Linked DNA regions of Homo sapiens: region 1 is linked to region 2. The links come from fine-mapping of genetic effects on gene expression. A gene starts in region 2. The other region holds a variant in brackets. All regions are shown on one strand. Distances are between the middles of the regions. Region 1 overlaps CD80 (CD80 molecule). Region 2 holds the start of TIMMDC1 (translocase of inner mitochondrial membrane domain containing 1).

The links. PIP is the estimated chance that this variant, and not a neighbour inherited with it, causes the effect.
Region 1: its variant is the best candidate, but not a certain one, in a credible set for the expression of TIMMDC1 in skeletal muscle (GTEx, PIP 0.87).

Annotation. Positions count from the first base shown.
Region 1 is chr3:119,548,237-119,553,236 of GRCh38, forward strand. All of the region lies in intron 2 of CD80 (CD80 molecule), which reads right to left. Among named protein-coding and RNA genes, the nearest start is that of CD80, 8.9 kb to the right of the region's middle. RefSeq lists an enhancer at 2,076-2,295. The variant G/T (reference allele first, on the strand shown) is at 2,585.
Region 2 is chr3:119,495,462-119,500,988 of GRCh38, forward strand. It overlaps TIMMDC1 (translocase of inner mitochondrial membrane domain containing 1), which reads left to right and starts at 3,086. Exons shown (of 7, transcript NM_016589.4): 1 at 3,086-3,466; 2 at 5,234-5,399. The coding sequence starts at 3,273. RefSeq lists an enhancer at 2,826-2,875.

The DNA.
Region 1 (5,000 bases), 53 kb after region 2:
CTCCCAAAATGCTGGGATTACAAGTGTGAGCCACCACGCCTAGCATGATGAGACATCGTGAGCATTCAGAAATATGGAAAGGCACCTGCTTGTCTTATGTATATAGCCAGATGCCTATGGGCCAGGAGTTGGGGACAGAGACAGGGATCCCTAGTGAGTGAGAAAGTCCACTGGTCCCCTGAGAAGACCTGAATATAAGTGCCAACCATGGGTTAAACGATGTGCTCAGCCCCAGGGGATATGAAAGTCATAGTAAGGAATGTGAGATCTGGAAGGGACTTCCATGATCATTCATTCTCGTGGCCTTATCTTACAAATGAGGAAACTGAGCTGAGGAAAAGAAACTGCCCCAGTTTTACACATTTTTTTCTTTCTGGCCCAGGCTTTTAGGGCCATTCTTCTTGTTTACCGATTTCTTCAGTTTTAGGCCACAGTCAGTAAGTTAAGCCAACACTGTCCCCACCCACCCCAATCCAGCCCTACCACTGAGCCCTTTTGCTATAAGAAACAGAGTCCCAGGCCGGGCATCATGGCTCAAGCCTGTAATCCCAGCACTTTGGGAGGCTGAGGTGGGCAGATCACGAGGTCAGGAGTTTGAGACCAGCCTGGTCAACATGGTGAAACCCCATCTCTACTAAAAATACAAAAAAATTAGCCGGGCATGTTGGGACACACCTGTAATCCCAGCTACTTAGGAGGCTGAGGCAGGAGAATCACTTGAACCTGGGAGGCAGAGGTTGCAGTGAGCCAAGATCACACCACTGCACTCCAGCTTGGGTGACAGAGTGAGACTCCGTCTCAAAATAAATAAATAAATAAATAAATAAGAAACAGAGTCCCTTTCTTTCCAGGCCTGATTGATCCCATGGTTCCAGGCTGAAATGACTCCCATGCTTATACCTTTGGACTATTTCTACCATCTTCAGGTACCCTAAATGGATCCTATATCCTGCCTTTATCTCTTTGGCTATCTGCAGTCCATGCCATACAATTACCCTCCAGCCTGGATTTGCTAAAAGAGTTTTTATTTAAAATATTCTGTTCATTTCTCCATCCACATAGCCAAGAAATATCAGCATATCAATATCTAAACTAGTCTCTGTGTCAATAGCACCAAAATTCCTTAGCAGGCTGTATTTTCTGATTTTTGGTTTAGAAGGCATGGTCATTCTTCCTAGGCTCTTGTAGGACCTAAAAGCAGCATCCCTCTAAGGCCCCAGCGCCCCCTGCCCAGTGCTGTCGTACTGTGCCTTCTGGGCCCTGTATCCCCTGGAGCCACACAGATCCCCTTAGGGAGACCCATGTCTAGGGACTTCATTTCCAAGCCCTCTCTTTTCTTAGATAGCAGGATCATGGGGCACTAGCACCTTTCCATCTCACCAGCCATTCTCAGGCCTCTGTCAGACTGGATACGGCCCCACCACAGCACTGAACAAGAGAGTTTTGTGATGGTGGGTATTTGCATAGCAAAGTGAGGTAATGCAGAAAGGTCCAGGCACCTCTTCAGCAATTGTGTGGAATGTTGCCAGTCCCTGCTTTAGGGAATATAACTGAAAGAAAGGAAGAAATAAAAAGACATACTTGAAGGGAGCATATTTCAAAGTGAAGCTATATTAGCTAAAGATCAAATGACAACCCAGACACTCCTAGTGTTGCAAGGAAAGCAAAATGAGACGTAGAAGGAACATGGGCTATCCATCTCCATTGACTTGGATTCTAGTCCCAGCTCAGCCACTTGCTGTTTCATCTGTTTCTTCATCTCTAAATAGGTATGACACCTACCCCTTGGGATCACTGGAAAATTCAGTTCAATTAAATGATATAAATAAAAAGTCCCAAGGACATAGCAGGTCTTCTGTAAGAGTTTCCATTTTTCTTTCTCCCTCCTCCCACTGCCAACTCTTACCTTTCATTTCACTCAAGGGTTATGTCAGATATATAGCACTCTGGTCTTGCTATGGGCCAGACAGACAGCAACTCACTTGTCTGGGCCTCCCAATAATAGGGTCTTTCCCCACCGAACTATTCATTCCCAGCCAAAAAGAATCCAATATTTCTCACTGATTTTGGTATGTGGTGATGTTAGCAAAAGTGAAAGCATAGCTGAAAGAGAGACTATCTAATTTTGGTGATGGCTTCTGAGGAGTTTTTGTCCAGCCTTCTGAGGAGAAGAGTGAAGAAGAACAGGACTAAAAAGAGGAACCCAAAATCTTCCGAACAATTTGGAAATTCACACGGGAACCCAGTTTTCGGGATTCCACCACACAGAGACAGAAAACAGTCATTATAAATTTGCCCAAATTTATATCAGTTTTGTCTGTTTTAGGGACTCCATCACACACGGACAAAAAGCAGTTGAAACGGAAATGTCTCTAACGATTTTGTCTGCTTCAGTGACTGGCGGGGAAAGTCAGCACCTGGAAATCTCAATATTACTGTCTCAAACCTGGTTGAACTTCTGAGCTTGCTTTGCCATTTTTGAATGGGCATTGTAACACCTACCCAACCCAGTGGGTGCAAGGATTCAAAATGAGATACTGCTCATAAAAGTCCTCCACAGTACCTAGGACATTAGAGGGAGCCA[G/T]TGTCTTCCCCAGAGATCCACACAGTTCAGGTCCCACTTTGCTCACATCTACTCTCGTGGCCCCTTGTCAAAGAGGCCTTCCCTGACTCTCCTTGAACAGCGCCATCCTCCCTGCCCCCCTCCATCCTGCTACTCTTTAGTCTCTTTGCCTGATTTGTTTCTCTTCAGGCTTGTCTCCAGCTGATATATATTTTTACAACTGTGATGTATATTTACAGGTATATGTGATACATAATTACGTATGGAGCTATGGAGCAGAGGCTTCCTCCTTTGTTCACTGCCATATCTGCAGTGTCTAGAACAGGGCCTGGCCCATAGTAGGTGCTCAGTAAATACTTGCTGAATGCATGTCTAGGCATGAGGAAATGAGGTCTGGCTCCATCCACTGTGTATTAGAATCATAACCTTGAGCAAGCTGGGTAACCTCTCTGGGCTTCAGGTTCCATCTCTGTAAAACAGTCATAATACTATTGCTATGATTTGAATGTGTCCCCTAAAGGTTTTGTGTTGGAAATTTAATTCCGGGTGCAACAGTGTTGAGAATTGGGACTGTTAAAAGGTGATTAGGTCATGGAGACTCTGCCATCATGGATGGATTAATGCCATTTTTTTGGGAGTGGGTTCACTACAGCAGGAGTGGCTTCCTTATAAAGGATGGTTTTGGCCTCCTTCCTACTCTGCCTTGGGCGTGCTCTCCTGCCTTTCTATCCTCTGCCATGGGATGATGCAGCAAGAAGGTCCTCATCAGATGTGAGCCCCTTGACCTTGGACTTCCCAGCCTCCAGAACAGTAAGAAATAAATCTCTGTTCTTTCTAAATTACCCAATGTCAGGTATTCTGTTATAGCAGCACAAACCAGACCGAGATAACTATCTTCCCTGCTTCACATAATTATCACAGCGATCACAGGATACCAGATGTAAAGTGCTTTCTTAACTTTAGAATGCTCTACAGATTTTAAATGGGGCTGTTCTTTCTCATGCACAACAGCCTGCTTTGCTGAACCACACCCCCATAGGACCAGCATCACCATGGTAACTGGCTGATTCTTGAACTGAGTTCAGTGCCCATAGCTGGCATGGGGAGCCCCTCCTGCACCTCTACCCAGCAGCAGTCAGAAAGGGCCAGAGGCTGTGAAAGGAGGCGGAGAGAAGGCAGAGATGGACGGCAACGCTGCTCGCCTTCTGGCGAATGCATGGAAACTGCCCACCTGTAGGGCACAATAGGGACACTCAACACTGCTGGCCTCAGCCTCTGCCTCTCCTGACCCCTTGGCCACCCTCCTGCTCTGACCACTTCAACTCTGGACTGCTAGCCACACAGGAGAGGAAGCTATTTGCCAACAAGAGTAGAGACCAAGAATTTTAGACAAATAATGGACCTCTCGGCCGGGCGTGGTGGCTCACGCCTGTAATCCCAGCACTTTGGGAGGCCGAGGCAGGCGGATCAGGAGCTCGAAGATCATCCTGGCTAATACGGTGAAACCCCGTCTCTACTAAAAATACAAAAAAAATAAATTAGCCAGGCGTGGTGGCGGGCTGATTTTTGTGTGGAGGACTTTTACGAGCTGTAGTCCCAGCTACTCGGGAGGCTGAGGCAGGAGAATGGCGTGAAGCCGGGAGGCGGAGCTTGCTGTGAGCCAGAGATTGTGCCACTGCACTCCAGCTTGGGCGACAGAGCAAGACTCTGTCTCAAAAAAAAAAAAAAAAAAAAAAAAAAGGACCTCTCAAGGGCTCAATCTAGGCCAGGCACCCGTAATCCCAGCACTTTGGGAGCTGGCCAAGGCGGGTGGATTGCTTGAGCCCAGGAAATCGAGACCAGCCTAGGCAACATAGCAAAAACCCCATCGCTACAAAAAGAAAAAATAGATCTCAATCTACAACAGAATATTATTTCAGAATATTATTTGGCCGTAAAAGCGAATGGAGTACTAAGACATACGCAACATGGATGAACCTGAAAGACATAATGCTCAGTGAAAGAAAATAGTCACGAAACGCCACATATTGTAAGAAATGTCCAGAATATTCTTTCTTACCTGGATTCTGGAAAAAAAGGAAGAGAAAAGAAATGTCTAGAACAGGCAAATTCATAGAGACAGAGAGTAAATTAGTGGTTACGAGGAGATGGGGTACAGGGGAATGAGGAGTAGCTGCAAATAGGCGCAGGTTTCTTTCTGGGATGATGATTTCCATCATCATCCAGAACATTTCCTTCTGGAATTCGATAGTGATGGTGGTTTCACAACATTGCAAATATACTAAAACCCACTGAATTGTACACTTTATTTATTTATTTATTTATTTATTTATTTATTTATTTATTTATTTATTTACTGAGGCAGAGTCTCGCTCTGTTGCCCATGCTGGAGTGCAGTGGCATGATCTTGGCTCACAGCAACCCCCGCCTCCAGGGT
Region 2 (5,527 bases):
GAGGTAAGGTGTTGTGGATGGAGCAGAGAGTTATATTTACAAGTCACTCATTTAATACTTACCAGATACTTCTTAAGCATCTACTATGCACAGAGACAAGGAAAGTTTACAAGAGGCTCCCAAACCTCAAGGGGCTGTGCCGTTGAGATGATAAACAATATGAGAGGCATCATACATACGTGGAAGGTGATTAAGGCAACAGGAGTGCCAATTATTCATGAAGACAATGTGGATCTGGAGTTTAGAGGAAGAATAAACTTCCAACTGGAGCAGATGGGAAACTTTGTGGAGGTAAAAATTAATTTATACCATGAAGGATAAGTAAATGAAATGGTTCTTGGAGTTCTCAAAATTCATTCTCTCTCCACATGTTGAAAAGTTTTATATCATATATAATGTAACAAAATGTAAAATACGTAGCAAGGGCAGTACTTGGTGAACCTGGCAGGGAAGGGAACCTGCTGACCCCTGAGAAAAAAATTCACTGTGAGGGAAGAAACTATTAGGTTCTATAAACAGAATTCAGCAACAAGGGCTGTTGGTGGAAGAATGGTGTTCCAGGCAGTATGGTGATTGCACTGAAATCTTTCCCTGATGCAGTTACTCTGCTGGCAAACACATGTCCTGGGGACAAGAAAGCCATATGTGAAACAGTGGTCCAGTAAACCCCATAACACCTTTTGGCTTAGACCAAGCTTGTCCAACCCATGGCTCACGAACTGCACGCGGCCCAGGAAAGCTTTGAATGCGCCCCAACACAAATTTGTAAACGTTCTTAAAACATGAGATTTATGCATGGACTTTTTTCTTTTTCTTTTCTTTTTGTTTTTTGTTTTTAGCTCATCAGCTACAGTTAGTGTTATGTGTGGGCCAAGACAATTATTCTTCCAATGTGGCCCAGGGAAGCCAAAAGATTGGACACCTCTGGCTTAGACTGTATTGATCGGAGAACCTTCAAAAAGAGCAGACTACAGCCTACAGGGCTGGGCTTGGTGGCTCACACCTGTAATCCCAGCACTTTGGGAGGCTGAGGCAGGCAGATCACTTGGGGCCAGAAGTTTGAGACCATCCTGGCCAACATGGTGAAACACCATCTTTACTAAAAATACAAAAATTAGCCAGGCTTGTGGCACATGCCTGTAATCCCAGCTACTCAGGAGGCTGAGGCACAAGAATCACTTGAACTTAGGAGGCAGAGGTTGCAGTGAGCCGAGGTCTTGCCACTGCCCTCCAGCCTGGGTGACGAAGCTAAGACTGTATCAAAAATAAAATAAAATAAGCAGACTACAGAGGAGGGTGAGCATTTCCCTTGTTCTAAAAGAAGGTAAGCCGTAAGGGATTGGGGAAGTAGGAAATGTGGGAGGGCTCAGATGGAAGAGCAGCAACAGTGCGAGCAGTAGCCAAAGGAGAGGGGAGTTTTTTGAGTTATCAGGTGGCAAAAGGAACATTACAAATGAGTCTTCCGTTACCCAAATGAGAAACAAGTTATGGAATTTAAAATTTGCCTGTTAATATTACCTCATCTACAGGCTAGTGAATCCTGGGGCATTTGAGTTGTACATAAGTGATTGTGTCAGTATCTTCCCAACACCCACCCAAACCCTCCTACCCATTTCAAGTCCTCCTTCACCCCAGAATAATTCTGGGGTCATCTTATGCATTTAGCTTTTTCTACATATAGGTTAGAAACAGACTGTACAGCCATTTTCTTGGGCTTTCAGGCCTTGGTAACTTATCTTGGTGCCCACTTCTACCTAACATGGGATAAGCAGTAATCCAGAGCCAGAAGTCAGGAGATCTGAATTATTCAACAAATATTTACTGAGCACCTACTGCGGTTCTAGGTCCTGGAGATACAGAGATGAATATATTTGGTCTGTGATCTCAAGGATAGTTTATTGAGACAGATTAATAGGAAATTATGATGCAGTGTTGTAAGTGCTACGATGAGTGCTGAATCAAATCTCATATCCCAGAGTAGTCTTCATGGCGCTGTCACTAATTGAGCTGGTCACTCTAGTCAGTCACTTCTCAGGGACTTATGTGTAGCATTTCCAGCTATCAAATTCCTAAGTCCACTTACTGTATTCTACTACAGTGTGGCAGTTTTGATTGACAACTAGAAAGGAATCAAGGAGGTGAAGGGATTGGCAAAATGAATAAGGGAGTATGCTTGTTAACAAGGATTGAATGAAATTACACGAATATTGAGAATATTTTAAATGCATTCATTTTAATGAAAACTGTACTTCGAAGCATATGTTAGCAGAGGTTGTAGTGACGGCAAATTATACAAACACTTGATAGAAATTCCAGAAATTCTCCTGCCTTTTGAGAAGCAGTAGGCATATGAACTAAAGGGAGTGAAATCCACCTTAGGAAGACCTGCCAAAAAGCTGATTCTTCAAAAAAGTGTTCTCGAAATCTTAGTGTAACTGGCACCAACACCCATCCCCAATGCCTCGTTTTTTTTCCAGCAGAACTGACAAGGTACAAACGGACCCCGCCCAGCCTGGAAGGCTTCTCTAATGTTGGCAGAGTAGGTTGGACTTGTTTTTGCACAAATCGCCTTTCCCTCTTTCCCTACTCCACTTGCACTGAATATTGCACTTTCTTCCTTACTGAAGCGGGATTCCTGCCTTTTTTTTTTTTTTTTGAGACAGATTTTCGCTCTTGTTGCCCAGGCTGCAGTGCAGTGGTGTGATCTCGGCTCACTGCAACCTCCGCCTCCCGGGTTCAAGCGATTCTCCTACCTCAGCCTCCCGAGTAGCTAGGATTACAGGCGCCCGCCACCATGCCCGGCTAATTCCTGGCATTTTAAATACGATAAATTACTTCAACCTATGACCACCTCAAGCTGAATATAAGTAGCCGCAGACACCGTTTGCATGACCCAGGAACCACAAACACGGAGCGAAGGCCTGCCGGGACCACGCTGAGCTTCACTACTGGCAGCCAACTCACTTCCGGGGGTGCACTCAGCACAGCAGTGGCCCAACCCGCCCTCAACCGGAAGTCTTTTGGGCTCCGGCTTCGCCGTCGCCCCGCCCCCTGGCCTTTGCCCCGGTCGGGCGGGACTTCCTGTGTCGTATTTCCAAGGACTCCAAAGCGAGGCCGGGGACTGAAGGTGTGGGTGTCGAGCCCTCTGGCAGAGGGTTAACCTGGGTCAAATGCACGGATTCTCACCTCGTACAGTTACGCTCTCCCGCGGCACGTCCGCGAGGACTTGAAGTCCTGAGCGCTCAAGTTTGTCCGTAGGTCGAGAGAAGGCCATGGAGGTGCCGCCACCGGCACCGCGGAGCTTTCTCTGTAGAGCATTGTGCCTATTTCCCCGAGTCTTTGCTGCCGAAGCTGTGACTGCCGATTCGGAAGTCCTTGAGGAGCGTCAGAAGCGGCTTCCCTACGTCCCAGAGCCCTATTACCCGGAATCTGGATGGGACCGCCTCCGGGAGCTGTTTGGCAAAGAGTAAAAGTGCCTAGGGTGTGAAGTGGGGTAGGGGGCCGCGAAAGCGGTGTCCTGCAGCGTGGGCAGCCTGGGTCAGCCTTAGGACACCAAGGATGGTGTGCTTCATTTTTAGATTATATTTGAGGTTCTGATATTTGTAACCCAAGCTTGTATCTTTTTTCTTTCTTTTTTTTTTTTTTTTTTCCAGACAGGGTCTTGCTCTGTCGCCCAGGCTGGAGTGCTGTGGTGCTATCTCGGCTCACTGCAACCTCTGCCTCTGGGACTCAAGTGATCCTCCCACCTCAGCCTCCCGATTAATTGGGACTACAGGCGCGCACCACCACGCCCGGCTAATTTTTTTTTAATGTATTTTTTATAGACAGGGTTCTTACCATGTTGCCTAGGCTGGTCTTGAACTCTTGGACTTAGGCGATCCGCCTACCTCGGCCTCCCAAAGTGCTGGGATTACAGGCGTGAGCCACCGCGCCAGCCCAAACTCGTATTTTTCTTTCTTTTTTTTTTTTTTTTCGAGACTGAGTCGCGCTCTATCGCCCAGGCTGGAGTGCAGTGGTGCGATCTTGGCTCACTGCACTCTTCACTTCCCAGGTTCAAGCGGTTCTCCTGCCTCAGCCTCCAGAGTAGCTGGGATTACAGTTGCCCACTACCATGCCCAGCTAATTTTTGTATTTTTAGTAGAGACAGGATTTCACCATTCGCCAGGCTGGTCTGGAACTCCTGACCTCACGTGATCTGCCTGTTTCCGCCTCCCAAAGTGCTGGGATTACAGGCCTGAGCCACCGCGGCTGGACTGCGCCCGGCCTAGAAGGGCAATTATTTTATAGTAACTTAATACTTAAGACAGCTATTTGTTAGAGCAGTCTCAGGATGACATCTTGGAAGCTTCATTAGCAGTTCTAGCTTCTTATGCATTTGAGAGTAACAAATCGAATTAAATAGTAGTTTTTCCTTGTTATTTTAGATTGGCATGTGCCACCCACTGCATAGTGAACTTTCCCAGTGCGTTTTTAAAAAAACATTTATTTGTTTATTTTTAGAGCCAGGATCTTTGCTATGTTGCTATGCTGGATTTGAACTCGGGCTCAAGTCCTACCTCAGCCTCCTAAGTTAGCTGTGACTACAGGCGTGTGCTACTGTGCCCAGCCCAGTGCTTTTATTAGTACAGTCCTATCTGAGTATTTCATGAAATTATTTAGTAAAATAGAATTTAGATTTTTTGTCTTACATCCACGTTTTTATTCTTTCATACATTGCCCTAAAATCTCACGAGTTGGTGTGATTTCTAAAAGTTAACTTAAGATTTAAACGGAAATATTGGTCTCTCTATCCAACTCACAAATTCTTCCTATTTCTAGGGGTGTAATAGTCATCAAAAGCACCTTTTAAAAAACTTTTTATTGGAGTAGGAAATGCATTTCGAAAAATGTGCCTAAGTATACTGATGGATGAATTTTCACAAACTGAACATAGCTGTACCCAGCACTAAGAAAGAAATGGCAACTATTGTAACATCCCAAAAGCTCCCCTTGTGCCTTTTCCGGTCATTGTCTTTTCAGGAGTTGCCACTATCCTAATTCTAACACCATAGCTTCGTTTTGTCTGAGACTACGTTCCTTTTAATATAACTGAACTGTTTAATTCATCTGAGAATTCTACCTATGATGAAAAATGTTGTGGTGGTAGCATTTGGGTTAATTCTGATTATAGAGTCTCTTGGAGAGCAATGTCCATAAACTAATCCCAAACAACATTGTCTTTTTGATGTTGTAGTGAACAGCAGAGAATTTCAAAGGACCTTGCTAATATCTGTAAGACGGCAGCTACAGCAGGCATCATTGGCTGGGTGTATGGGGGAATACCAGCTTTTATTCATGCTAAACAACAATACATTGAGCAGAGCCAGGCAGAAATTTATCATAACCGGTTTGATGCTGTGGTATGTACTGGTGATCTAAAGAAATTTGGGGCACACTGACTTAGTAATTCACTTTACACTTAATCATTCAATTAGGTTGTGGGGATGGAGGGTTGTTTTAAGGTGTCAGAGTAAAGAAATAAAGTCTG